4 linked regions of the Homo sapiens genome follow. The protein of the gene in region 2 interacts with the protein of the main gene of each other region in a pairwise test. Each region holds a gene or a part of one and is shown on either strand. Other genes may lie near its edges. The genes, in order: ATP7A, PDZD11, SLC5A6 and MAGI2.

What was found.
Region 1: the proteins of PDZD11 (region 2) and ATP7A interact in binary tests that used the Homo sapiens proteins (3 or more experiments, as listed by UniProt).
Region 3: the proteins of PDZD11 (region 2) and SLC5A6 interact in binary tests that used the Homo sapiens proteins (3 or more experiments, as listed by UniProt).
Region 4: the proteins of PDZD11 (region 2) and MAGI2 interact in binary tests that used the Homo sapiens proteins (3 or more experiments, as listed by UniProt).

What each region holds. Positions count from the first base shown.
Region 1 is NC_000023.11:77,983,672-77,990,696, reverse strand, and holds part of ATP7A (copper-transporting ATPase 1), read right to left. Parts: intron 2,456-7,025; coding exon 1,966-2,455; intron 1,465-1,965; coding exon 739-1,464; intron 1-738. UniProt on the Homo sapiens protein: ATP-driven copper (Cu(+)) ion pump that plays an important role in intracellular copper ion homeostasis.
Region 2 is NC_000023.11:70,286,903-70,294,136, reverse strand, and holds the start of PDZD11 (PDZ domain-containing protein 11), read left to right. Parts: upstream 1-4,209; 5' UTR 4,210-4,277; exon of another isoform or gene 4,278-4,308; intron 4,309-4,515; exon of another isoform or gene 4,516-4,699; coding exon of another isoform or gene 4,700-4,795; coding exon 4,796-4,882; intron 4,883-5,623; coding exon 5,624-5,707; intron 5,708-5,963; coding exon 5,964-6,020; intron 6,021-6,306; coding exon 6,307-6,405; intron 6,406-6,800; coding exon 6,801-6,861; intron 6,862-7,020; coding exon 7,021-7,055; 3' UTR 7,056-7,234. Other genes in the region: chromosome-associated kinesin KIF4A, read right to left, coding at 3,332-3,446, 3,559-3,678. UniProt on the Homo sapiens protein: Mediates docking of ADAM10 to zonula adherens by interacting with PLEKHA7 which is required for PLEKHA7 to interact with the ADAM10-binding protein TSPAN33.
Region 3 is NC_000002.12:27,202,245-27,209,269, forward strand, and holds part of SLC5A6 (sodium-dependent multivitamin transporter), read right to left. Parts: intron 5,547-7,025; 5' UTR 5,407-5,546; coding exon 5,014-5,406; intron 4,699-5,013; coding exon 4,633-4,698; intron 4,291-4,632; coding exon 4,239-4,290; intron 3,850-4,238; coding exon 3,782-3,849; intron 3,261-3,781; coding exon 3,106-3,260; intron 2,688-3,105; coding exon 2,547-2,687; intron 2,347-2,546; coding exon 2,217-2,346; intron 1,624-2,216; coding exon 1,535-1,623; intron 1,102-1,534; coding exon 989-1,101; exon of another isoform or gene 637-988; coding exon 569-636; intron 1-568. UniProt on the Homo sapiens protein: Sodium-dependent multivitamin transporter that mediates the electrogenic transport of pantothenate, biotin, lipoate and iodide.
Region 4 is NC_000007.14:78,120,643-78,127,667, forward strand, and holds part of MAGI2 (membrane-associated guanylate kinase, WW and PDZ domain-containing protein 2), read right to left. Parts: intron 6,775-7,025; coding exon 6,555-6,774; intron 5,196-6,554; coding exon 5,052-5,195; intron 1-5,051. UniProt on the Homo sapiens protein: Seems to act as a scaffold molecule at synaptic junctions by assembling neurotransmitter receptors and cell adhesion proteins. Plays a role in nerve growth factor (NGF)-induced recruitment of RAPGEF2 to late endosomes and neurite outgrowth.

The sequences.
Region 1 (7,025 bases), 7.7 Mb from region 2:
ATTGAATATACATTTTTTGTTTCAGTTCAAAGGTAAGAGCTGTCAGGAAATACGAAAACTTTGGGACAGCTCTGGAGTCAGTTTAATTTGAATGCCTAAATATAAAATTATAGTTAAAATCCTATTATTTATTTCAACTACTTTTGTTTTTAAAAGAGCACTGGCTTCCCCCATTATATAAATACATAGCTACATACATACATTCTTATTGTAAAAACAACTTATAAAACCAGGAAACACAATGGAAACAAAAATCACATTTATCCTACCACCCAAAGATAATCACTGTTAAAATTTTGGTTCATATCCTACCAGGAATCTTATTCATATACATAAACAATATATACATGGCGTAAATTCAGATACATTTCTTTATAAAATTTTGATCACATTGTATATATAGCTTTTCAGCTTTTTTTCATTTAACAAAATACCTCAGACACCTTCCTGTGGCATTAATTATCTTTAATACCATAATGTTTTATGACTTCATAGCATTTCATCATGAGTTATTTATTGTTGCACCACGAGTTATTGTTTCCAGTTTTTAAATATCATAAGCAATTATACAAACATCCTTATGCATCTTTGTATATACTGCTGGCTACCTCCATAGGACATATTTGCAAAAGTGGAATTACAGTGCCTATGAATCATTTCTCATTGATAAATGCCAAAAGAAGCAGCAAAATGGAAGTAAAAGAACATTAGGGTAATCAAAGAAAAAATGATAATTACCTGACAAGGTAGCATCAAATCCCATGTCTTCTATTGCTCCTCTCAACGTTTCTGGAGAGGTTAGTAGAGGATCATACTCAACAGTCCCATTGCTATTTGCAAGGGAGACTCGTATGGATTTTACACCTGGCTTTTTTGATATGACACCCTCAATAGACTGCACACAGGAATTACAAGTCATGCCATCAATGTTTATCACAGTTTCTTGTGTCAGAGGCTGGCTAACTACATTCAAAGGAATCTTCTGAAGAGATGAGCTGGAGGGAGAGTTTGAGGTACTCTCAACTTCACTTGTGATACTAACTCTATATAGCCCCGGTGATACAGCCTCTATTGCTTTTCTCAGGGATTCTGGAGTGACTGAGCTTGCATTATACTTCACAATGGCAGACCTATTCTCTAAAGAAACTACTATGCTGCTTACATATTGGAGTGCAGATAAAGTACTTTCAATATTTGACACACATGATTTACAATGCATGCCATCAATGATGAAAGTGGCTGTTGAATCATTGGTATATGATGGACTCCTTTGCTGTGACCCTTCTGAGGATTTAACTGGTGTGTTCTTTAGACGTTCTACATCAATAGCTCCCAATTTGAGGTACTTGGGCTGCTTTTTGACAAATGCTGGAAAGCCCATAGCTTCAATCTGCTTTTTCATTTCCTCTACTGAGATAAGATGAGGTTGATAAACAATAGTAGCTTCTTGATTGTCCAGGGAGACTAGTTAATAAAAAGAAATATAATTAATTCAGTTATTCCTGGGCTACTTCAGAAAACATTCTGTTTTCTAAATCAATAACCACAAATAATTGTTTCTCTCTCATTCTTGTCATCATATTTTCTTAATTTTTTTTCTTTTCAGAAAATGTTATTGGCATAGACTAGAAACAAGTAAGAGATATGACCACTGTAGCTATGGTCTCCAAGTTTCTCCATGCCTAAGTAAAATATATTAGAGGTAAAGAGTACCCTAGTCATGTTGTGTTAAGAACCTTGAATTCCATGAATTGCCAACCCAGCTGCCTTTTCTTCAGTTCAAGGTTTATGTAACCTTTAATTATAATCATTAACTTTTAATCCTGGGAATATGCTGTACCTCAATGATACAGCAAGCACTCTAGTCTCATGGATTCAAAACTCATGCTTAAGAAGAAAGCAAAAAGTTAAAAGATCAAAACAGACACCTAAGCCTTACAAAACAATCAACACCAGACACATTACCTTTAATTCGCTGAACACCTTGCAGTTTCCCAATTTTTCCTTCAATAGTGCTAGTACATGAATGGCAGGTCATCCCTTCCACTTTCATCTTCAGCACGACTTCACCAGCTTGAGCCATACTATGATCTTCACAAGCTCCTGACTTTTTCTCCAGTGTCCCAGTATCTAAACTGAGTTCTGGAACCAGCTCTTTTATCTGATTGGCATTCACTATAGAAGGGATTATTGTCACTGCTACAGTTCTTTTCTGAGGGTAAATTTTAATGTCTGTCACACCCTTGGTCTTCAGCAATGTGCTTTGGATATGGTCCCATGGCAAAGTCAGTGACGCCGTAACAGTCAGAAACAAGGTGTCAGTTAAAACAGGGAGAGGGTCAGGATTATGGATAACAGCATCAAAGCCCATGTCATCAATAGCTTCCTGTAGGGTCTTTGGAGTCTGTAGTTTAGGGTCATAAATAATAGTTGCATTTTTTTCTTCCAGTGATACCTTTTGGAAGGAAATTCCAAAAGTCAGTTTAATTAAATTCTATCACACAGGATTTAAAATAATAATCATCACACCACATTCAAGAAGAGTGAGACAACTCAATCTAATGGAGTTTCCCTATTAGTTTTCATTTTTACTCTTCTTGTTAGAAAGAAACATAAAATGTCTTGTGTACCTACAAGAATGGTAAAGTTATATATGCAGACATATGTGACTGTGGTACCTATCAGGCATTTGAAACATGTATATTGACAAACACACCCAAGAATTTCACAACAGAGTACAAACTACTCTTTCCTTCCATTCCTTTCATAAATTACTCCAACACTTCACACTCTACCAACTGAAAAGGTTATACATGAAACAGGATCAGCTACAGAAAAATAAAAGGTAATATGAAGTTTAATATTTTAAAATGTCCAATTTCCTAAAAATATGTATAACTATTATATGTCAATTTAAAAAAATAAAAATAATGTTCAATTAGGATAACTTTGTTGGCAAGAAAAGTATAAGCCTGCCGGTTTATGAGTGAAGGCAGTATTCATAGGATTTTATAGCATATACTCCTATATCCCCCTAAGTCACTAGAGCATACTATTAATTTTGTTCAAAATAAGAACATCTTTATTGTTTTGCCCAATTAGATTATAAAACAATGATTATATTCTTGTAGCTTAGTTACTGCATATAATTTAACTACTGTCATGATTGCATCTCTTTGGCTGACATCTTACAAAGATTCATGATGAAGACACACACACACACACACACACACACACACACACACACACACAAATACTGGGTTGGGAGTCAGAAGATTTAAGTTCCAGCATCAATTCTCCACTTATTAGCTAACCACACCCATTAGTTCTACCATCTGAAAAATGAGAAAATATGCCCTATTATCTTCCAGGGCTATTACAAGGATCATACGAGTAAATAGGAAAGTTCTTCGTAACAGCAGTGAATTATATAAAATTAAACATTGAGCAACTAATATTTATTGAGCACTTATTATGTGCGTCAGGAACTGGGATTCTCAGGATACAAAGCTGAACATGTCACAGGAACAATAGGACAGAGAATACAGAAAAGGGATACCCATTCATCCCTGGGAATATGGGTCAGAAAAGTATTCTTAGGAGAGATAATACCTGAATGTTAAAGGACAAACAGGAATCAGCAAGGATATATGAGGCAGAGAATTCCAGATGAATGGAAACAAAAAAGTAGAGAAAGATAAGAGGCTTGAAAATTAGGCAACTGCTCTATTATGGGGTTCTATATGCCAATAATGGTTGTGATTTATCCTATAGGTAATAGGAAGCCATGGAAAAGTTAAGCAGAGAATTATGTGATTAGATTTTCATTTTAGAGAAGGATCATTCTGGAGGCAGTGTGGAAGATGATAGTGTAGTAGGGTGGAGTGATACAGGAGGGAGGACTATCAGCTAGGAGGCTACTGCAATTGCAAAAGTAGTGCAATAGAGGGTCTGAATTAAGACATGAATACTGGGGGCAAAGATAAAAGAGGCAGCTCCAAGATACATTCAGGAGGGTAGGGCCTCCTAACAAGATGTATAGGATAAAGGAGACGACTAGGATGACTTAAAGGTATCTGGCTTGGGCCAGTGGATAGATAGATGGTGGCGTCATTAACTGATATCAGAAAGAGAGGAGGAAATCAGGAGGAAATTAAGAGGTTAAAGTGGAGGGAAAGGAGAGATGATAAATTCAGTGCTGGACCTATTGATTTTTGAGATGGCCATAGGATATTAATATTCAAAAAAGCAGTTAAATATAGGTGTTATTAATTTCTAGTGAAAAGCTTTGCTCTATAAAATAAAAACTCAAAATTATAATTAAAAGTAATTCAGCATAGAAAATCTCTCTTTAAATTGTCTACAATAGTTAAATCTTTCACTTATTTTAATGAACATATTTTTATTTCTTCCTTTAGCTTGATAATTGATGACTGTGTATTTGGGTGAAAATGTGAAATGTACCCATGGCATGGAAAGTTTCTAAGACTCTGATAATTCTAGTTGGCTAGCTGGTTCTTAGGGATGGAGGAAATCACTAGCATAAATGATCCAAAACAGAAGTGGGGAAATAAATTATATTTGGTTTTGGATAATACTATATAACATTTTCCATGAAAAAAAAATGCAGAATAGTCAAACCACGTATAGTTGAGACATATAGTATTGAAAGACATGCAATATAAGAGTAGCCACCATCAAATGAAGGCTTTTGTGTCCTTGTGTTTTTAAAGAAGGCCTCTTTTAAACTTTAATTTCCCTCCCCTGAGGTGATTTTAGGGTTAAGAAAATGACTGTAAATAATTTAAACTTTCCAACTAAAGGGGAAGATGGAGAACAGAACAGTGGTTTCCAGGGGTTAGAGGTAGGGAAAATGGTAGCAAGAGGGAGTTTTTTAGGGGTAACAGGGCTGCGCTATGTCCTGGTTGTGTTGGTGTTAAACAAATCTATACATGTGTTAACATTCACAAAACTAAAAAAAAATTTCATAGAACTATATACCCAAAAAAAGTCTATTTTACTAGATGATTATTTTTTAAAACAAAAAAAACTATTAAATAAGATTAAAAATTCAGTTCCTCGGTTGCACTAGCCACATTTCAAGTGTTCATTGGCCAATGTGGTTAGTCCTACCAGACAGGGCGGATACACAGTATTTCCATCATCACAGACCATTCTTGGGTGGTATTGCTCTAGGTACTACTATACTTTTTCTGATAAAGTACCAACGTAAAGGATTCTTGCCCTTTAAATACGTTGTATCCGGTACATCTTAAACAAGACCTGGTTCCCCCGCACCCACCCCCCCCAAAAATGTCAATTTACCAACATAGCCAATCAGAAATTGTTCTCATTTTAAAAGCAAAAATCACTTCCTCAGGCCAGGTGGCACACGCCTGTAATCCTAGCACTTTGGGATGCTGAGGTGGTTGGGCAGATAGCTTGAGCTCAGGAATTCCAGACCAGTCTGGGCAACATGGTGGAACCCTGTCTCCACAAAAAATACAAAAATTACCCAGGCATGGTGACACACTCCTGTAGTCCCAGCTGCTCAAGGGGCTGAGGTGGGAGGATTGCCTGAGCCTGAAGGTCAAGGCTGCAGTGAGCCAAAGTCGTGCCACTGCACTCCAGCCTGGGTGACAGAGTGACACTGTCTCAAAAAAAAAAATCACTTTGTCACTGGATGGTTTGCTATACTTTCTAACTGCTTTAGCCTATCTTTTATTTATAAAAGGCATAAGAAAACTATGCATAAAATACTACACAAAAGAGAAGTCAAAGTACCCTACGCTATTTGCATGCTGCAGATGAGAAAACACTTCCTTTAGTAAATTCTATTTCTGTTTTAAAAGCTGACCAACCACACTCAGCACAAACAAAAGTATCCCTCTTTGGGGTAACAGCACTCAACTTTGCCTCTGAATGTTAGATAGCAAAGAGACTTTTCAAACCTAAGGTCTCAAAGGAAACAAATTCACAGTACAGCTCTGGGTGCTAAATCTTTGGGCAGGAAGTCAAAATGGTACTTATTGGCTGGGCGTGGTGGCTCACACCTGTAATCCCAGCACTTTGGGAGGCTGAGGTGTGCGGATCACTTGAGGTCACAGTTTGAGGCCAGCCTAGCCAATGCAGGAAAACCCGTCTCTACCAAAAATACAAAAATTAGCTGGCCGTGGTGGTGGGTGCCTGTAATCCCAGCTACTCGGGAGGCTGAGGCAGGAGAATCACTTGAAGAACCACTTGAAGAACCACTTGAAGAATCACTTGAAGAACCTCGGGAGGTGGAGGTTGCAGTGAGCCGACATTGCACCACTGCACTCCAGGCTGGGCGGCAAAACAAGACTTCGCCTCAAAAAAAAAAAAAGGTACTTATGTATTCAACAAATATTTATTGAATGTCCATTATGTGCCCGGCACTATGCTAGCTGCTAGAGATACAGTGATGAGCAAAACCAGGCAGACTCCATAGAGCTGGAAAGTGCTGGCGGCAGTCTGATTCCGGGTCTGTGCTGCTCTCCTTTCATATGTCCTCTAACCCCAACCCCTGCTCCAAAAATAACTTCCCTTCTCTGCCCTACCCCACCTTCCTCATTCCCCACATTGCTCCAATATTTCGACAGCTTGTCTTTTTCTCTTAATCTTTTATTAGGAACCAATGTTGTTATTTTTATTTTCAGAGGAACTATTTTTCCATTATATCAATCGTTCCTCTGGGCCGGAGTGGTGGCTCATGCCTGTAATCCCAGCACTTTGGGAGGCCGAGGTGGGTGTATCACTTAAGGCCAGGAGTTCGAGACCAGCCTGGCCAACATGGTGAAACCCCGTCTCTACTAAAAATGTAAAAATTATCTGGGCATGGTGGCGGGCGCCTGTAATCCCAGCTACTCAAGAGGCTGAGGCACAAGAATCGCTTGAACCCGGGAGGCGGAGGTCGTGCCACTGCACTCCAGCCTGGACAAGAGAGTGAAACTCCGTCTCGGAAAAAAAAAAAAGTTCCTCTGAAAATAAATGTAACAGCCTACAAA
Region 2 (7,234 bases):
AAAAGTAAAAAAATATATTTTTTTAAAAAGAAAAAAGCTTACAGAATAAAGATGCAGAGTGAAAATGTTTATTCCGCTGTGCAATGTATTTGTGTTTTAAGCTAAGTATTATTACAAAAAAGTCAAAAAGATTTAAAAAATTAAAGTTTATAAAGTAAAAAACGTATAATAAGCGAAGGTTAATTTATGATTGAAGAAAGACACAAAGTTTAATAAATTTAGTGTAAGCTAAGTATCCAGTGTTTATAAAGTCTACAGTAGTATACAATAATGTTTTAGGCCCTTACATTCACTCACCACTCATCACTGACTCACTCAGAGCAACTTCCAGTCCTGCAAGCTCCATTCACGGTAATTGCCCTATACGGGTGTATCAGTTTTTACCTTTCATACTGTATTTTTACCTCACCTTTTCTATACTTAGATCACAAATATTTTCCATGATGTTACAACCGCCTACAGTATTCAGTACAGTAACATGCTTTGCAGGTTTGTAGCCTAGGAGCAGTAGGCTCAGGTGTATAGGAGGCTATACTATCTAGGTTTGTATACATGCACTCCACCATGTTCATACAATGACAAAACCGCCTAATAATGCACTTCTCAGAAGGTATCCCTGTCGTTAACTGATGCATAATTATAACTTGCTACTTAATTGTACAGTAGTAGCTTCTAAAACTATAAGCATGGCACCTAAAAGGAACTACAAATGCAAATTTACTTCAAGGTGAAAAAAATAATGACCTTAGGGAAGTCTGTTCCTTATTAGTGTGGCAGACATGTTGTCAAGGAACACAAAGCAAGCTTTCTCTGTTAAATGATCATCATATTTATGTCAAAGCTGTTATCTGCTATTTACCAAGATAATTTTGCAGTCTGAAGGAAAAAACCCTTTAAACTTTGAAACAACGTTTTAATCTAAATGAAAACTTTGAAGTTTTGAAAAAACTTGTTGGTCTAAATGAAGGATCATAAGAAGATGCTAAATTGAGATTTTCACTGTAATAGACCGCTGGTATCAGCTGGCATGACTATGGGGCAAGAGAATAACATTCCATAATTTTCTGCAATACCACAGATATGTGCAGATAGCAATAACTTGGGAAATGAGGTTTTAGTAGTTTTTACAAAATACTTAGGGCTCTGTGGTACCAGGAGTTCAGAGTACAAGAGGGTGCTGTTGAGCTGACTATAAAAAATATTGACTTTGTTTTTGCAACCAAGGGTAATGTTAAGCAAACACATGTATATTGGAATCACTTTCTACTTTATGTTGCCTTTAAAGAACATAATTTAATTCTATCAGTTTCCCAAGTTAAGAATGTAAAAGTAGAACTGTGGTGCTCTTACTAAGCTGTGGAGGTATAGCCTGAGGAATCTGACCAGATAGTGCAGGGTCTGAAAAGCATATTGTTTCAGGAATGGCTAAAGGAAAGGCGGGGATAATTGAAGAGAATTAGGTAGAAACACTTAACGGTTTTCCAAATACTGTATGTAAAAAGGAAAAAGATTATAGTGGAGAAGCCCAGCAGATTAACACCTTAATCAAATGATCAAAATGAACATCAGTAGTAATAGAATAAATCAAAATCATGTGCTGCCCAATAGGCTTCAGTGAGAAGAAAACAGCACCACTTCTGTGATATTCCTGCTAAAAGATACACAACCTGAATCTAATCATAAGTAAATGCCAGACAAAACAATATTGAGAAAAGGTTTACAAAATAACTGGCCTGTAATCTTCAAAGTGTCAAACTCATAAAAGTCAAAAAAAGACTAAAGAACTGTTTTAGAATGGAGACTAAAGAGACAGCAAAACTAAATAAAACGTGATTTTGAACTAGATCTTTTTGCCATAAAATATTTACTGGGACAATTGGTGAAACTTGAATGGGGTTTCAGGAATAGATGGTAGTAATGTAGCAGTGCAAATTTTATTGTTTTGATGGTTGTATTGTGGTAACTTAGAAGAAAGTCCTTTTTTGTAGGAAATATACACTAAAGTATGGGGGGTTATCAGGCCAATGATTCATCTCAAATGGTTCAGGGAAAAAATGTTTTTTATGCTGTTCTTGCAACATTCTATACGTTTGAAATTATTGCATTAATATCTTAAAATTTTGAAACAAAAATTTCAGTGTTCCTTGAGCCATATCATTAAACAAAAAAACGTGAAAAAATATGTGAATAGCTGTTGCCTAGAAGAAGGCTTCTAAAGGAATGAACTAACATCACTGGGTAGAAATTACCAGGAAGCAAATTTCATCTCATTATAAAGATCTTTATAACATAATTAGACTTGTCCAAAACCCAAATCTCAACTGGACTACCTGTGAGTCAGTGAGTTCCCTGTCAAAAAAATTTTAGACACTGGCAGTTCACCTAACAGATATTGTTAGAACGCATTTTTCTTTGGATGAAAAACAAACTAGATGATATACAAATGTCTCTTTCAACTTTAAGGCACTAGCATGCCATGATTCTACTTCTTTTAAACGAACCTCTGTTTTGAATCTTGAATAACCACTGTATTAGAATAATAATTAGACATCTCTCAGGCACTGCTCCCTTCTTTAGAACCCTGCTATGGTCCTCAACAGCATTAAAGACTTAGCTTCCCCAGTAAAGATTATTAACTGGTGATAGTATTCAGAGGCTTTAGGCACTCCCCTTCTCCACCTAAAAGAAGTATACTCATTATTCAAGACCCATCTCAAAGTTTTCCCACTCTGTGAAATTCACCCCAAATTCCCCAAGCAGAGTTAGAGCCATCCTTTTGTTTTTCATACCACTTTGTATGAGAGCAGAGCTACTACTTCCATAGGACTGACTCTGTTGTATATTTTTAACTTGAAAAATTTTTCTTCTAAAAGATAGGTACAAAAAATTTAAAAATTTTTATATATTCAAAATTATTTATGTAGTCATCTATCTCCATTCCTATCCCCTGGACTTTGAACTCCTTCAGGGCCTCGAAGCTATATTATTTATCACCTGAATCCCTCAACAAGCTTTGCAGTGCCTGGGCCTCAAGTAGGTTGGCACACTTATCACCATCAGCAACCACCACAGAGTTTATAATCTAATGAAGTTCCAGGATAAACAAACATATACAAGTCAAAGATGAACAGAACCACATAAAGCAAATACAGAATAAAACTAGCTTCAAGGGTACAGAGACGTTGACAAATGTTATTAGGCTAAGGGCTTCTTGAAGGCAGGAATCATGATTCATCGATTCCTGTATTTGCAGTGCCCAAGCACAGTGCTTGGCACATAGTATATGCTCAAGGAATATATATGTTACGTTCGAGGAATCAAATCGCCTTACCTTTAAATACACCTTTTATGAGTGGCGCTACTGCTGTATTGAAGACTTCTTCCTGTTCAGTAGAGGGATCAAATACAAAATCGTAGGTGAAGGATTTATCTGTACCAACCACCACCTAGAGAAGGCACGGGACAAGGCGTAAGGTTAAAAATGAAAGGCAAGACCACACCCCTCGTTACCATTTGGCCCCAGCTGTTCAGACACAGGCTCTGGACTCTGCTACGCACCTGAGGCTCTCCGGGCACGAAGGAAAGGCACATCTGGCAGCCCTCGCTAATCTCTTTGGGGACCAGAGGGCGACAACGCAGCGCCACTCTTACGGGAATTCCCTTCACCTCTTCCTTCATGATCCTATCTCAGCACCGTCTCTGCGAGGGGGAAAAAGAAGGCTCGCTGATGAATGTTAGTAGGTCAGCAGGGGTGGGAGGGCGTCCTCCCCGGTTCCGACCCTCCTCAGCGGGAACACTGACTTGGGAGATTCACGCTCCATGACTTGGCCAGGGCTGGACCGCCCGTCAGCCCTGCACTCTAAAGAGAGTGCACGGGCTTCTGAAAGGCAAAGAAAAAACTCCAACGGGGACGGCGACAAAGAACCAAAGCCCTAGGGTACTGGGTAAAAACAGGTTCTGAGCTAAGGTGTGCCCCCGTAACTCACCAAACTAAATGTCCCTTCCCCGTTCTCCCTGGGCCTCCCGCCGCCCTGTCCCAGCCGGAGCTTTAACCGCCAAGTTTCAAATCCGTCCCGGAGACGCCAACCAATTGCAGTGCGGACTGCCCGAGGGCGGAGCGCGCACGTCGGCGCGCGCAGGCCGGCGCGGTGGGAAGGGGAGGGTCAGCTCGTTGCACCCTGGCCCGGCCTCTTTTCGACCCTGCGGAGCATCCGCTTCCGGTTCCCAGACTGAATTGTCAGTGAGCGGAGTCTGAGGTCGCTGTGGACTGCCCACTGGTGAGGTGGTGCGGCGTTTATGCGGCTGAGAGTGCGGGTCTCAGGCAGAATGTGGGGCGGGGACGTGGGAGGTGGCTGGTCAGGTGAAGGAAGGGTCGATCTAAGGACCCTACCATTACTAATCACATCTAGGAAATGTGGGGCGGTGCCTTGCCCCGAGTCCCTGCGGATAGTTAACACTCCCTTGGGCTTCGAAAGTAGATCTTTTTAGACTCGACCCTGATTTCCTCTTCTCCAGGTTTGAGACGGTAACATCTGTTTTGCAGGATTGTGAAAAATGAGGTCCTCTTTCTAGAGTACCTGACAGGTTGCTTGGCATCCAGAAGATGTTTAGCTAAGTTAAGAGTTTTCTTCTGTCTTCCTTCTCTCCTCCAACCTTAACACCTAGATATGGGCTGGGCCTGTAGACTGACTGCCTTGGAATGGGTTGGAGCTGCTGTCTGAAACTTGCTGGGCTGCTCTCCCTTTTGAACCACTTTTTGTCTGTTCTGATTCACTCTTCCAGGGCCTTGCCCGAGATGGACAGCCGGATTCCTTATGATGACTACCCGGTGGTTTTCTTGCCTGCCTATGAGAATCCTCCAGCATGGATTCCTCCTCATGAGGTGGGAACCATCTGTATTCCTGAGTAGGAGATTTTTTTCCCCGTGGGCATGAGATGATGCATGAAAGGTAGGATAGCAGGGTTAGAAGGCGAAACGGAGAGTGAATCTTAGCACTTGTAGCCAGAGGACCCAGAAGCTGGATTCTGAGCAACAGGACCCATTGGGAACTTCTTTATGGAAGCCTCCTGCTAGGGTCTGTTCACACCGGTTAATTCTGGAAATTTGGAGCCTTCATTTCCATACTGTTAAGAGGTTCAGCGCGGTGGCTCATGCCTGTAATCCCAGCACTTTGGGAGGCCGAAACAGGCGGATCACCTGAGGTTGGGAGTTCGAGACCAGCCTGACCAACATGGAGAAACCGCGTCTCTACTAAAAATACAAAATTAGCCGGGCGTGGTGGCACATGCCTGTAATCCCAGCTACTAGGGAGGCTGAGGCGGGAGAATTGCTTGAACCTGGGAGGCAGAGGTTGCGGTGAGCTGAGATTGAGCCATTGCACTCCAGCCTGGGCAACAAGAGCAAAACTCCATCTCAAAAAAAAAAAAAAAAGGTGAAGAAATGGGGAGCTACTGGGCTGCCCCAGTGCTATCCATCTACTCATTTAGTCTGTGTTATCTGTTCTACTTAAATTAAGTCTATGACCTTTCCTTTTCCTGACTTCAGGGTAATTCATTAGTGTTTCAGATGAAGGTAGGTGTGAAGTAAGACTGGTAAAATTTCTGGGGTTGCTGTGTCTTGCAGAGGGTACACCACCCGGACTACAACAATGAGTTGACCCAGTTTCTGCCCCGAACCATCACACTGAAGAAGCCTCCTGGAGCTCAGGTGAACTTATGAAACCTTATTTCAGGCTAGATTCATCCATACCACAAATTGGCAGTGTTGGGGGGATGGATTGGAAAGCAGGTGCAGATGTGAGGAAACTTTCCTTCTTGTGGACAGAAAAGCTGAGATAACACTTCTGCAACTTCTGACTTTCCTCTCAGGGACACACAAGCTGAGCTATTGTACGATGATGCTACTAGTTGTTCTTGTGTTTGTGGTCTCCATTGAGCCCCCATTCTGTGCTCTTGTCTTACAGTTGGGATTTAACATCCGAGGAGGAAAGGCCTCCCAGCTAGGCATCTTCATCTCCAAGGTATTTATGCCCAGTAGGCAATATGGATCGTTACTTCCCTTTGTTAAATTAACAGATTGCAGAACCCTAATGTCCCAAGGGCTGAGAGGATGACTCTGGATTCATAGAAGGGGTATAATGGAGACACCCCCTTTCCCACTTAAAACTTTTCATTTGGCAGGCCATCTGTCTGCATACATTGTCACAGAAAAACAATAGCACCATACATTTGAATAGCACCGAATTTCACTGACAGTCTTCTGAAATTATCGCATCCCAATCACATGTATTCTCTCTTTACCAACAGGTGATTCCTGACTCTGATGCACATAGAGCAGGACTGCAGGAAGGGGACCAAGTTCTAGCTGTGAATGATGTGGATTTCCAAGATATTGAGCACAGCAAGGTGAGCACAGTACTTGGGCTGTGGTGCTGCAAGAAGCCATCTCAAATAGGACAGATTGGACAGGAGTAGCCTAATCTGTAACTTAATAAGAAAGCATTTTGCTGGGCACTGTGGTACACGCCTGTAATCCCAGCTACTTAGGAGGCTGAGGCGGGAGGATCACTTGAGCCCAGGAATTTAAGACCAGCCCAGGCAACGCAGCAAGACCCTGTCTCAAAACAAACAAACAAACAAACAAAAAGAGAGAGAGAAAGTAAGCACCTCTCCTGGGAAAGTACAGGAGGGAAGCAGCTATTAGTGACACACAGGTTGGAGTGGCAAATCCCTTTCCCCCTATTATGATTCTGTCTTGGGTCATATCTCTTCATTTGTACAAGCTGCTGTGTTCCTTCCAGGCTGTTGAGATCCTGAAGACAGCTCGTGAAATCAGCATGCGTGTGCGCTTCTTTCCCTACAGTAAGTGCCACTTTCTTTTTTCACTTTCCTGACAGGGCCCTAAGTAAGAACTCTTTAAATACTGATGACTAGAGGCCCTACAAGTTGGGGATAGGGAATCAGGAGCTCAAGCGTGAAGATAACCTGCTCTGTTCCTCCTTTTCTTCTTCTTTCCTTCAGATTATCATCGCCAAAAAGAGAGGACTGTGCACTAGAAAGTTGCAGCCCACAGCCCTTCATGTGGACTCTGTCATGACATGCTAACTAGACTTCAGGGGAGCCACTTCTGTTTTCAGCCCCTCCCTGGAATAGTGAGTTGGGAGGATGGGGAGACAGCTAACCAACTGCATTACCCAAACCATATTGCACTTTTAGTTCCCTAGTTTTCTAGGTG
Region 3 (7,025 bases), on a different chromosome or scaffold from region 2:
TAATTCCAGCAGTTTGGGAGGCCGAGGCGGGAGGATCACCTGAGGTCAGGAGCTCCAGACTAGCCTGGCCAACATGGTAAAACCCCGTCTCTACTACAAATACAAAAATTAGCCAGACACGGTGGCACATGCCTGTAGTCCCTCAGCTACTTAGGAGGCTGAGACAGGAGAATCACTTGAATGTGGGAGGTGGAGGTTGCAGTCAACTGAGATCGCGCCACTGCACTCCAGCCTGAGCAACAGAATGAGACTCTGTCTCAAAAAAAAAAAAAAAAAAAAAAGAACTCCAGAGGGCAGGAAAGGCTGCTAGGGGGCTGATGGAGAGGGATGTGTTTTGAGTTCTCTGAGGCTGATCCTTAGCTCTCTCTCAGCCTACAACATCCCAGGAATGACCCTGCGTCCTCTGGCTGCTTGCAAGTCTGTTCACAGTAAAGACGGTCCATCAAAGGGGAATCTCTTACGCCTGCCCCCCGGTCATTCCCCTCAATATAGCTGCCCTTCTCAACTTCCTGTTTCAATCAATTCCTTCTCTCCCTTAAAATTGCTTCCTACCCTCTATAGTTATTACCTGCAGCACAGGTCCCATCTGGGAGGAAATATAGGCCATTCCTAGACAAAGCAGCCCATAGCCAAAGGCTGGGGGAAAAGGACAGGAGAGGAAACAAGAAGGTGTGAGTTAACACAAGCAATGGGGTAAAGCAAGGCTCCCTGCCCAGCCAAACTACCACCTCTGTCTCTCTGGAAACAAAAGGCATATTACATCACGCCCCAGCTTCCTCCCACCAAGTCCTCACTCCTATGTGACTCAGAGACCTCCCTAGGACATGCCCTGAGATGGAAACAACCATGCATGCAGGGAAGGTTGTGTGCTTCATTAGGCAAGTGCTGAGCCCCGGATAAAGTGGGTGTTTTACAGCAAACTGATGACAATGGTCAGGATGAAGCTTAGAAAGACCCAGACTGAAGAGATGAGGAAGCATAACCCCACCAAGGCCTCTGGAAAGCATGATGGCCCGGGCTTCAGAGAACTCAGGGAACCAAGGTCGAATCAGGTCTTCCATCGTAACAGTTGCCAATGAATTAAAAGCAGAGGATATAGTGCTGAAAAAGAGGAAGAGGATGAGGAGTTGAGCGAGGCAAAATTGTCAGCTCTATGGGACTCTATGGAGGAAATGGTGTCCTAAAGCGGGGAGATGACAGGTACCACCAAGAAACCTCCTCATAGTTGGACTTGATGCCACCTCAGAGCGGGCCTGGAAGGCAAGGACACAGTCCTTTTTTGAATGTGGATATGGGTTTCATTCGAGTAGATCAATTTCTGGTACCATAAAAGAACTCTTAACCAAAACAGGGGTATCTCTGTTGTGCTGTGGCCTACAAAGATGAGCTATCCCTTGTCATGCACACAGATGGGGCAGGCACAGTGAGAAACTTAGAGGGATTCCCCACCCACTATCACCCCGCTCCACCCATCACCTTGTACCAAATAGGGGTCAGGTGCACCAGGCCTGAGGGAAATCGTTAAAGTGGGTACCTGAGAGAGCCGCTGAAGAGGCAGGCAATGAAGAGCCCTGGCAGGCCTGGCAGGCCCTTCAGGAGATCCATCACAAAGTACAGGACGAACTGCAAGCAGAGCGGAGGTACACAGCAGTCCTCAGAGAGGGGTCTTCCCAGGGCCGGCTCTGCAGGGAAGCTCCCTTTACATGTGCCCCAGCGAGTCTACCGAGACTGGGTGCATTACAAGGGAAGCCAGGGCCTGGGGCACCTCTGCTGACCCAAGTGTCTACACATTAAGTGGAGAGAAAATGAGCTCTACAGAGGGAATGACACAATTCGCCCGCAGCTCTGTTTCTGGCTACTAGTGTGACTTCTGCTTACTGGCTACCTCATTGAGTCTGTTTTCTCCTCTGTGAAATGAGGCTGTTAGAGGCTTAGGTGAGACCAGGTATGTGATAGCTCCCAGCAGAGCACATGGAGCCCAATGGGGAGTCAGTAAGGGTAGGTCCTCACCCCAGTAGGATGAGCACTGTGGTTAGGTGATGCTAGGGACCGCGATCCTCACATGCTAGATTCCTAGCATCTCAGAGTGGGAAAGGATTTTACAACCGTCTCCCACCCAGGGTGGGAGTCCTTTCTGCAGTCAGTCCTTTCCTACCTAGACACTCCTGTTGTGGGGCCAGGCCTGCCCTCATGGGAACAGAACAGCGCCTTCTCACCTGGTCTGGGGCTGCCTGAGCCTGCTGAATGCTCATGGGATACTCCTGGTAATACGCGAACATGACCAGGCCAATGAGGCAGCCCACGCAGAGGGACACCTGCTGGAAGGGGAACACTGCATAACAGGAGCTGCAAAAGAGGTCAGTGCCAGGAGGAGAGCCGGCGTTAACAGACACCCTCAGGTGTGTGCCCCTGACCTCCAGAAAGGAGACCCACATCCTGACCACAGTGGATGTGTATGCACTCTGGCATCCTGCCCCACCCCAATTATCTCTGGGGAACCCCTTCCCCTAGACCTTGCTCCACTCCCTTCCTGTCCCTGCACTCACAGCACAGCAGCCTTCTCCGTGCGGGAACTGAGGTACCGCTGCACCTGAGCCTGGTTCACCCCGTATAAGGAGAGCATCATGAAGACACCCCCGAAGGCCAAGGTCCAGAAGGTGTGCCGCACAAAGGGGTCTGGATCCAGCCTGTAACAGACACCACCCAGTCATTGTGCAAAGCCTGAGAGACACAGCCTTCCTGCCCTCTTGGCAACAGGAGTCAGTGGACAGGAAAGGAGAGACACCACTGCTAGGGCCAAGGGGGACACTGAAAGCAAGAAGCTGGGTGCACTCGAGAGACAGCACAGCCAGTTAGAGGGAGGCTCCATTCTTCCACCCCAGGCTCATTCCAGGTACTCATCCCAGGTAATGTCCTGACTCTCTATAAACACTAGCCGGGCACCTGTAATCACCCTCCATCTCTGCAGGACCAGTTTCCCACTGTCTGCTGTTACACCTCAGGCTTCCCAGTTTACCTTCTGCTTACTATAGCCAAGACCAGCCTCTAGGATGGGCTCAGCGCCCAGGCACTGCAGACCCCAGCCAGGAGTAGGGGTATACTTACTCAAACCCAGAGATGCGGCCGTGCTGGGAAGCCACGGCCCACACACGCCCCAAGCCGCCCACCTTGGCTGACCCCACAATGATAACTGCCAGCTGCCCGAGGAACATGACCAGTGTCTGGAACACATCTGTCCAGATGACGGCCTTCAGCCCACCCTGCAAGGAAAGCACAGCAAACCTGCCACAGAGGCCTTCTAAACCCAGCTTGTCCAACCTGCCTTATTTTGTTGTTGCTCCATTTTGTTTTGTTTTGTTTTGTTTTAGGCTTTTTGCAGCCTGAAGCCAGTTTTTAGTTTCTGTCTCTGGTGATATGTATAAAAGAGGGATGACGAAGGGGCTTTACTGACCCAACCAGAAACAGAAACTAAGAACCCATGACTATATTCTCTCCCTTGGACACTCCTGAAACCATCCACCCTAAGAACATACTACCAGTGAGGGGACTCTCCTGCCATTAGGCATGTAATTGCTGTGACCCTGTTGACATCATTCCCATCCCATCCTCTACCTTCATATACCATCCCCACTGCTAAATCCTATCATAAATCTTACCACCCCAGAATTTCACCTATTCTCCTCATCTATATTCTCAGCTTATCTCTTCTTTTCCTTCTCTTCCCATGTCCCCTCCTTACTTCATCCCTTCCCCTCCCCACACCACGGCTTACTGCACTTACCAGAGCTGTATAGACGGTACAGACAATGCCCAGGGCCAGCACGGACAGCCACAGATCAAAGCCAGTCACTGTAAGCATAGAAGCCACATTCTTATCCCTGGAAAAGGGTTCCCCAGGGGAGAAGCCCTGGTAGGGCAATCACGTCATGCCACAGAGATAAAGCATTGGTCATTAACAATGAAATAAATCATTCACCACAACGGAGAAAAATGTTTGCAGAGCTCCACCAAAAGATATTGACTAACCAGTTCAGATAGGGCATGGTAACATGTTACTAGCTGTCAATTGAGGTGGACCAAGCCTTCCTCTGGTAGAGACCCACCCAAGGGCCCAAGCGGTGAATTAATTCCCCATTCAAGGTCAGGTTCTTTTCCACATACGCTCCTCCATCTGCCTCTCCCAAAGGTGCTTTCCTAACCTACCACGGCTGAAAGCCAGGGGCTGTGTGACTCCTCACCTGCATTGAGAGCCAATGACGGAGCATAGAGCACAACTCCCATGTAGATCACCTGTTGCATGTGGAAAAAATGTGATGGGGGCCGGAGAATGGTGGGAAGAGAGAGGAAGAAAGATGGGCCTCAGCGCCAATATGCCCATGGCTTCCCCTCACCTAGGCTCACTTCCCTCTTCCTTCTCCTCTCAAATTCTGGCTTGCTGCCACCACAGTATCTGTGCTGGAATTGGAAGGCATGGGCAGCAGGATGCCTCTGGGGTCCTCACAGATGCTAACCTCTAGCAGGAATTTCAATCCTGCCAATCTGAGAGCAGGGGAGACTCCAATTCCCTCAGCATGCTTGCGTTCAGGTCCCCCAACATGCCCTAGGCTCGGTTTCTATCCTCATTCTGCTTACCATCTGAAAGATGAAGGTCACAGTTCCACACACTCGCACAGTTTTATTGAATCGAAGCTCCAGGTACTGGGTATACAGAAAAAAAGATTTTTCTCCTGACTTCACCCCGACAACTCACAGACAAATTCCCTCAAGATGCTCAGGAACATGAGGGAATATCCAACCCATACCCACTCTGAGTCCTACTCGGCATAGCACCCTCCTCTCCAATCCTGCCCCTATACCTAACATCACTGAGAAAGAATTATAAACACACAATGAGTTTTCTGTCCCTCTCATTAGGTGGAGGAGGTCTAGGGTCCCAGGTCCTTCCTATGTGCCTGTCCCTCCTCTCCACCCCAACCCGTGTCCCACGCACTTCTCCCTTCTGTCCCTGCTCACCTCATAGGCACTGGTGAGATGCAGGCGGTAGAAAACGGGGATGAAGATGTGTGCAGGTATCAGCAGCCCCAGAAAGTAGCAGCAGCCCAGGAACCAATATTGGGTCCCAAATCGGTAGATCTCTGACGGCACACCCAGGATGGCCACGGCTGACTGGAAGGTGGCCAGCAGGGACAGTGCCACCGGAAGGCAGCCCATTTTGCGGTCCGCCATCAGCAGCTCACCAACAGTATGCCGGCCCCAGCCACGACAAGCATGGTAGAGCCCAATGGCAAGAGAGAGAACCAGCAGCAGGACGAACACCACATAGTCCATGATGGAGAAGGTAGACATGCCCACGCTTGTGCCCGAGGTTGGGGAAAGAGGGGCTGAGGTGCTCACCCCTACACTCATATCCTCACTGTGTCTGTGATCTGCAGCCAGTTGCTGCTCCAGGGCTCTGGGGTAGGGCAGGGGCGGATGTGTGGCTACAATCTGGCTTCCAGCCACAGTCTCACAGTCTTCCTCCACGGAGTGATACTGTCCAGGGTGAGCTGCAAAGGAATTAGCTCTTAGTGAGGCCTATCTGGCCTTGGTAGCCATTCACCCTTGGGCCTTGTACATCGCATGCCATCAGAAGTGGACCAGCCAGCATAGTGGTAGCCCTTCAAGGTCTAGAGGCCCTGGTATGGGTTTGGTAGGGGACATAAGTGAGGGAGAAGCATCAGAGTGCGACAGCCAGGAGACAATATAACTTGGCCAGGACCTTTGAGTATGCACAGCTGTGAAATTCAACAACCTTCTTAGGTCTCCACCCGAGTACCAAAAGAAAAATAAACTCTAGCCTAAGTTTCTTAGCAGAATTTCCCAGCCCCACTTGAAGGCACAGACCCAGTCACTACAATACACTAAGCCAGCAGAGCCCAGCCTGGCGCCACAGCCCAGCAGGAAACACAGCATGGAGACTAATGGCAGCAGGGCTTCCCCTACTGCCCCTGGCCTCGGCCCTCGCCTCCTGTGATCCCCAGTGTCACCCTTCTAACTGATCATCAGTGAGACTGCCTCTGTGGCAGCCACAGACTCCATTTCAGGCGTCCCCAGGCCAACCCCTTTCTTAAGGTTCTCCCCAACACCACTAGATAAGTGCTGCCACCCACCTCTCAGCCCCTCTACCTGCAACATCACAGTCAACAGCAGACGCAGGAAGAGCGGCTGGATTCAAAAGTGAGAGGGGAAAGGTGAGAGGGCACCATGCTGGAGTCAGGGTTTCAGAATGACGATTCTCCATTCTGGAGAGAAGCAACCCAGTCACGGAGCTGAGAGGCAAAGGGACCAGCCAAAGAGAGTGGTCGTATCCTGCTGGGGACAGACACCTACCTGGAGAAGCAATCCCTGTTCTGAGGCAGAGTTGCCTGGAGCTGCAGAGCTGAGGATCTGGCTCTATGAGTAGCTGAGGTGAGAGATCAGGAATTGGGGGTGGGGTGAAGCTCAGCAGTCATTTGTTCTGGCCCCTTCAGGGAACCAATGGCTGTGTTCCAAATGGCCCTATCACCCTATGGCCCCCAAACTCCAACTCAGCCCTAGAGGCTCCAGAACAGGGAAGAGGGAGCTCATATTCAACAGCATTCCTAGATGGATTAGCCTTTCAGCCTAAAGTACTCTTGGCACTCTGTGCGGGAGGGAGTTGGAAAGAAGGAACTGAAAACATGGGAAAGTTGAAAGTTGATTTTCTAACTCCTGCACAAGAAATGTTAATCCCCCAAGAATACACCACAATCCTCAGAGAAAGAGGGAAGGGATCATAATATTTAAAATCTTAAATCTTTGGACACCACTATTACAACCAACCCCCCACCACTGACGATTTCACAGATAAACACGCTAAGGCTCAGATGGTTCAAGTGACCTTTCCAAAAGCACAGAGCCGACTATTGTCAGAGCATAAATTAGAACCCAGGTCTAGGGATTCACCATCCACCCTGTCTGTTCTCCAAGCGTATCATATTGTCTTCAAAGGCAATCCTCTGGGGTAC
Region 4 (7,025 bases), on a different chromosome or scaffold from region 2:
TTAATTTATTATAGAGCTGTCATTGCAGATTGGTGGGGGGTGGGACAAAGAAATACTCATTAAATAATGATGCTGTGGACCGGGCGCGGTGGCTCACGCCTGGAATCCCAGCACTTTGGGAGGCCGAGGCGGGCGGATCACGAGGTCAGGAGATCGAGACCATCCCGGCTAAAACGGTGAAACCCCGTCTCTACTAAAAATACAAAAAATTAGCCGGGCGTAGTGGCGGGCGCCTGTAGTCCCAGCTACTTGGGAGGCTGAGGCAGGAGAATGGCGTGAACCCGGGAGGCGGAGCTTGCAGTGAGCCGAGATCCCGCCACTGCACTCCAGCCTGGGCGACAGAGCGAGACTCCGTCTCAAAAAAAAAAAAAAAAAAAAATAATGATGCTGTGACATGTGGTTATCCATATGGAAAAATTGAGATTGAGGTTCTACCTTATATCATACAGAGAAATCAACTGTAGGTGATTAAATACTTAGATATAAAAAGTAAAACTATACAACTTTTAGAAGAAGATATAAGAGAAGACGTTTAAGACCATGTCTTGGAGAATGATTTCTCAAACAAGACACAGAAAGCAGAAACTATAAAAAAAAAAAAAAGGGTTAAGCCAATTACGCTAAAATTAAGACTTTCTCATTATCAAAGAGCATCATAAAGAAAGTGAAACTGCAAGCCATAAGCTGGCATAAGATATCTGTATCACATTAATTGATGAAAAAGATCACCAATAATATATAAGCATTTCTATAATCAACATGAAGAAATATTCAACAGAAAATGAGGAAAGACATGTACAGGCATTTTTTAGTTAAGAGAGAACATGAACGTCTAATAAATATAAGAAAAAATGATGAATATGAATTTGTAATCAAGAAATGCAAATCCAAATCTAAAATATATAATTTTCTACCTACCAGAATGAGAGTTTAAAAGTCTGACGTACAAATCTTGTGAGTGTGTGTAGTAAGAAAAACTTTTTTACATATGCTAATACAAGTATAACTTTGTAAAACCACCTTGGACAATACTTTTGTGTTACTTAGGTAAGTTAAATTTGTGCCCTCCAAGGCATCTAGTCTAGTCTAGAGAAAGTCTTGCATAGGTACAGCAGGAAAGATGTACAAAGATTGTATGAGTTACAACAAACTTGGAAACAACCAAAGTGTAAATTGACAGGGAAAATCTCAAATGTCCATAAAATGGAAAAATAGATAATTATTATAGGTTGTAGCATATTCACATAATGAAATAACTTATAGCAGTGAAAAATAAATGGACTATAGCTTCATGCACCAACCTTGGATGAATCTCATGAACATAACATATAGAAAGCAAACCACAGAGAAGAACATGTACAGTATGGTTCAGTTACATAAAGTTCACAAAGTGCACCAAGCTAAAGGTTATAGTTGAGAGATACACACATCTGTGGTAACAACAGAAGAAATGTCAAGTGCTTTATTTAGGAAGGTGGTTCCCTCTGAGGGCTGGAGAGTAGGAGGAGAATGAAATCATGGGAGCTTGGTAATGTTCTGTTTTTTAAGTGGGGCTATGGGTTCATGGGTCCTTGAATCATGGTTAGTATTTACACTTATTACATATGTTAGAAATATTCTTGTAAATCGTTTTATGTTTAATAAAAACAATATATAAACCAAGATGCTTTTGTATTGACTAGTTATATCTGGTCTATAGAAGGAAAGGTGACAAATTTAGAAGAAGCTAATTTCAGGGAATGTTGCTTTTCCTTTAAAAAAAAGATGGGCAAATGATATTTTTTTGTGCATTGATTGGTTGAACAAAATGTTTTAGTCATTCCAAAGCCCATTGCAGGCAGACTTTTGCATCATGTGAGTTTCAGAAAGTAGGTAAACCATCTTATAAATAAGCTTATGTGATGCTAAATAGGCATACACAAATGGTACCCAGCTGCAAGTGATGAAGTTATGAAATAATGTTCTTTTTCATCATAAAAATACATTTTATGGAAATGCGAACTATATTACACTTTTATGGAAACAGGAAAATATTTTACCATTTTAAGAGCAAACGATCTCCTTTCAGATTTCTCTTTTAACTTGACTCTCAGATTTTTATTTAAGCACTTAGAATTTCTATTCTTTCCCTCCAAATGTCTCCTGATTTCTTACATTCCCTGTTTTACTGAGCTTTGCCAATATTATTTTTTATGTTCATTATTTTTTGCCTGTGTTTTCTATTTAGTTTTGGCTTTTAATTAGGTTATATTCCTAGGAGCTTTGTATCAGAGATTTTATTCACTAGCTATGAAAATTTCATCCCTCCCAATTTTATTAGGCCATTTTACAAACGTAAGTCTTCTTTTTATAAACAGCTCCAGTAATATTTTCTAATAATTTATTATCCTTTTCCTTAAAATCTGAATGTCCATTGTGTTTCTCTTATGACACCAGCCTTCTTGACTGACTGAAGAAAAGCAAGCAGACGTGACAATGATATATCTCTTTTTATTATTCCCCTTATTTTCTGCATTCACAGATTGTGTTTTGTTTTATCTATTCAACTTTTAATACATCAGTATTAACTGATGTTGAAAAACCATCTAGTATAATAATTAAAGTCAAAACTTGCTACTCTCCACTGGTTTTTTGATAAAGTGAATATAGTAGCTCCCTCTCATACCTCTTGCATATATTCCAACATCTCCAGCGGATGCCTGAAATCACAGGCAGAACTAACCCTATATACACTGTTTTCCCTATATATATCTATGATAAAGTTTAATTTACAAATTAGACACAGCAAGGGATCAAAAACAATAAAAAAAGAACAATTATAACAAAATGCCAGCATCACTACTCTTGCACTTTGGGGCCATTACTAAGTAAAACAACGGTTACTTGAACACGGGCAGTGCGATACCATGATAGTCAATCTGATAATCGAGAGGGCTGCTGAGTAACCAGTGGGCAGGTAGCATCTACAGTGTGGATAAAGGGCTGTTTCACCTTCTGGGAAGGACAAAATTTCAGCACGATACTCACAACGCTGCACAATTTAAAATTTATAATTGTTTATTTCTGAAAAATTTTATGTAATATTTTTGGATTGCAGTTGACACAGGTATCTATAATAAAACCTCGGAAGGTAAAACCTCAGAGTTTCACCTGAAGAGCTTCCTAAAACATAGCCTGGTGACCCCACTCCTAGAGTTTCTGATTCAGCAGTTTTGGGTGGGGCTAGAGAATCTACATTTCTACCAAGTTTCCAGGTGATGCTGATGCCAGGAACCGTGCTGAGAACCATTGCTCTGGCTTAAATTCTGTAAGAAAGAGGAATCTTTTCCTGCAAGGGTATTTCTCTATTTAGGCTTCTTTGCCTTGGGAGTACTGTGTATATCCAGCAGCGAGTCATTTAGATCCCTTGTGAAAATACATGGCCACTGTTTGTAACCGACAGAGACCAGCCCTGTAGTCCACCGTGGGTCTCTATCTCTCACAGGGCTCTGGCCATTTTGCACATGGTCTTCCTACTGTGTTTCACCTGCACTGGAAAGATTAATTTTGTTTTACTTAACTGCTTGTGAGCTGGCCTTATAGCAGGTTAAGAAAGTGTCCTTCTGGCTTATAGGGAAGCTGTAGAGCCAGGAAACCATGTGGAGGCCCATCTTCAAATCAGGGCTAGACGGGGTAAGAGGAGGCTGGTGCTAGATCACGGGGAGGGCTGCCAGTCTCTGGTGTCAGCCCTGCCTGGGTTTAAATTCCAACTTGGATGCTTCCCAGCTGTCAAAGGATTGTGGTAGTGGGGAGAAACAAAGACATGATGTGCATGCCTTCTGCTTTTGGACTGTGGATAATCCTCTGACTTGGAAATGCGTATCATAGAAATGCAGACTTGGTGGTAGAAATAACAGATTCAGCCATCAGGGAAAATTGGTTGGTGAGGCTCTGCACAAGAACCTGAGGTTCCGGAACCCCAAAGCCACAGCTTTTCTTTATTAACTTAAAGAGGCAGGAGGGAGGGCAAGAATAAATTCTAGATTTTATTCATACACCGACACACACACACACACAAACACACAGAGAGAGTAAAGAGACTAATATTTTATATTGTTAACAAGCTTTGTTTTATACCCTTAAATGAAGAATCAGTTACCCATCAATCAGATGCCTCAAAGTAATTATTAAATGAAAAAATCTACTCTTAACTTTAATTGGAAAATTTCTAGCTGCTGTCTTTTTTTTTTTTTTTTCTTGAGACAGATTCTCACTCTGTTGCCCAGGCTGGAGTGCAGTGGCACGATCTTGGCTCACTGCAACCTCCGCCTCCCTGGGCTCAAGCGATTCTCCTGCCTCAGCCTCCTGAGTAGCTAGGACTACAGGCGCCCGCCACCACGCCTGGCTAATTTTTTTGTATTTTTAGTAGAGATGGGGTTTCACAGTGTTAGCCAGGTTGTTCTCCATCTCTTGACCTTGTGATCCTCCCGCCTCAGCCTCCCAAAGTGCTAGGATTACCGGTGTGAGCCACCACGCCCGGCCCCTGCTGTCATTTTTAAGAACAACCTGTATCCAAGAAGCCAAATCCCTTTTACTCCTAATGCTTCTGTCTGCCCAGTATCAAACCAAAAGACCAGTCAACACAAAGGAAAAATTTCCTAAAAGTCCCGCAAAACCATGTGATTAATCAATATGGGGGAAAAAGCACAAAACTAAAAATAAATTTCAAAAGATTCAACCTTAATCAAAACAGAATCATCAAACCATAGAAAGAATTATGGAGAAATAATGTTTCCTTTTCAAGCTATTTCTTAGATTTCTTTCATTTGCTCTTTAGAAAAATAGTACTTTACTGAGGTTAATCAATTAGAAGGTCATAAGCAGAAAAATGAGAATGAGAGATATTATAAAATAGCAAGTGGCCAGACTTTTAAGAAACTGGGTCATCATCAACTAGAAAGAGGGCAAACCTACAGCAACCCCGCTTGACAGCATGCTTCAGTACTCTTCCAATACCACAGTCGGTTTTTCTTTCAGAATTAAGCAATTCTATAAAAAGAGACTGTTCTTACCCTCATCCTCCCATTCCTTATTGCTGGTCCATCTTCTGCCAGTCTCAACACATACAAATCCATTTTGTATTCCCTTCCTCCACGAATGCTGAATCCAAATCCTTTGGCTCCTTTCTCCATGTCCACAGTGAAATAATCAAAATCCTTTGGGGTTGGGGAGAAAATGGAATAAATAATTATTTAGTTATCAGAGAAGCTTCTGTGGCTAGTCTCTGTGTTCTCCTTCTGTCTCTTAGTTAATGTATTCCAAATGACATGATGTTGGGAGAAGTCGTAATCTGGCTTCATAAACTACCCAAATGAAAGACAAAATTCCAAAGGTTTGAGCAGGCCAGAGCACAGTTTACTTGGTCATCAAAGAATTACTGTGTAGCTTGTTTACTTTGGTATTCATCAGTTTACTTGGCAAACGTGGAATGATTACAGATAGGCCTGAGTGACATCATCTCTCCTTTTACTTCTCTCATTCACTGCTATTGAGCACCATAAATAAATGTCAGGTGTGTGTGTGTGTGTGTGTGTGTGTGTGTACAAATTACAGAGTTTGCTGATTAGAAAAGTAAAATTTAGTGGGATCTGATAATTAGATCTCTCAGTTGCACAGACTATTGAATATCAAGTTGGAATGTACAAAATCAATTTCTCTTTTACCTAAAATGCAGTATGTCCAAGATTCTCTGATCTTCACTATTCTTAAAATCTTTGGGCATAAAGTTGATCTTCAATTCATAATAAAACACAATGTAATCTGATAGAGTTGAGATTGTACTTAATTTATATCTTGGTATGTAGTTACGAAGTAGGAAATATTTTCTAGATACCAAACTCTGGTCTAGACTCTTTTCATAAATGTTGAATCCTCATCCTGGCCTGTAAGGAAGACTCTCCCTTTAGGAAACTGAATCTCAGAGAAGTTAAGGAAGTTGACATGAAGCACATCAACAAATAATCATAACAACAGTGACACTGGTTGTGTAGACAGAGAGTTGTTGGCTGTGGCAGGCGCTACACTCTGGATTGTGAAGCCAAGCCTGGTCTTATTCTTACGCACAGGGGCTTGGCCCTTTATCACAGAGTGGCAGGTAGGGGGCCACGTAAAAAAATATGGACCTAAAATACCTCCACTGCTAGCATCTATAAAATTTTCTGCATTAGCAGCACTCTCAGAGGTCCCAGGTTAGAGCATTTTTAAAACTTTGACAAGGAAACGTACAAGGAGTTAGCTAGTATTAGCAGGGATTAGTTTATTCCATTACTACTCATCCGCTATTTATTTATGTATTTATCCATATTTATTTATTGTCCTGCTTTATTCTGAAATAGATTTATTTATCCAGCATGTTTCTGAGGATGCAGGTGTTACCCCGATGTTACCAGAACTAGGAATAGAACTTCAGCTCTCCATCCCAGACAGGTACTCTTTCCTCTGCCTCTCCTATTTCATTCCTTGCAGTTCTCTGGAAGCCTTGGTCAGGACCCACCCTGCTCTCCGGGAGGAGGTACCTGGGGTTGTCTGTAGTCCGACAGAGGGTACTGCCTGGTGTCGGGGGAGTGCTGCCTGTAGTCCAGTAGGGGAGGCTGCCTGTAGTCCAAGGGTGGGGGCTGCTGGTAGTCCCCTCCTGGGGGTTGCCTGTAATCCAGCGGGGGCTGCCTGTAGTCTGTGAATGGAGGCTGTCGGATGTCTGGTTTCACATCTTGCCTTGCTTTCACTTCCGACCTGTAACTAAATCAATGGAAATGGGATTTGCTTTTGTAACTCTGCATTCTAAAGAGGCTAGAGTGATCACACGGCCTCCAGAGGTGGGCCAGCCATGACAGCTCACACAAACCACTCCTCTCGGTGGTCCTGTTGGATGCTCAGGATTATGAGAAGGTTAAATATTATTTAAAAATCTCTGACAAATGCCATATTGTATGCTTTTTATTTGGCTCCTTACGAAGTCAAGGTAAAAATGATGGTTCAACCAGAACCTT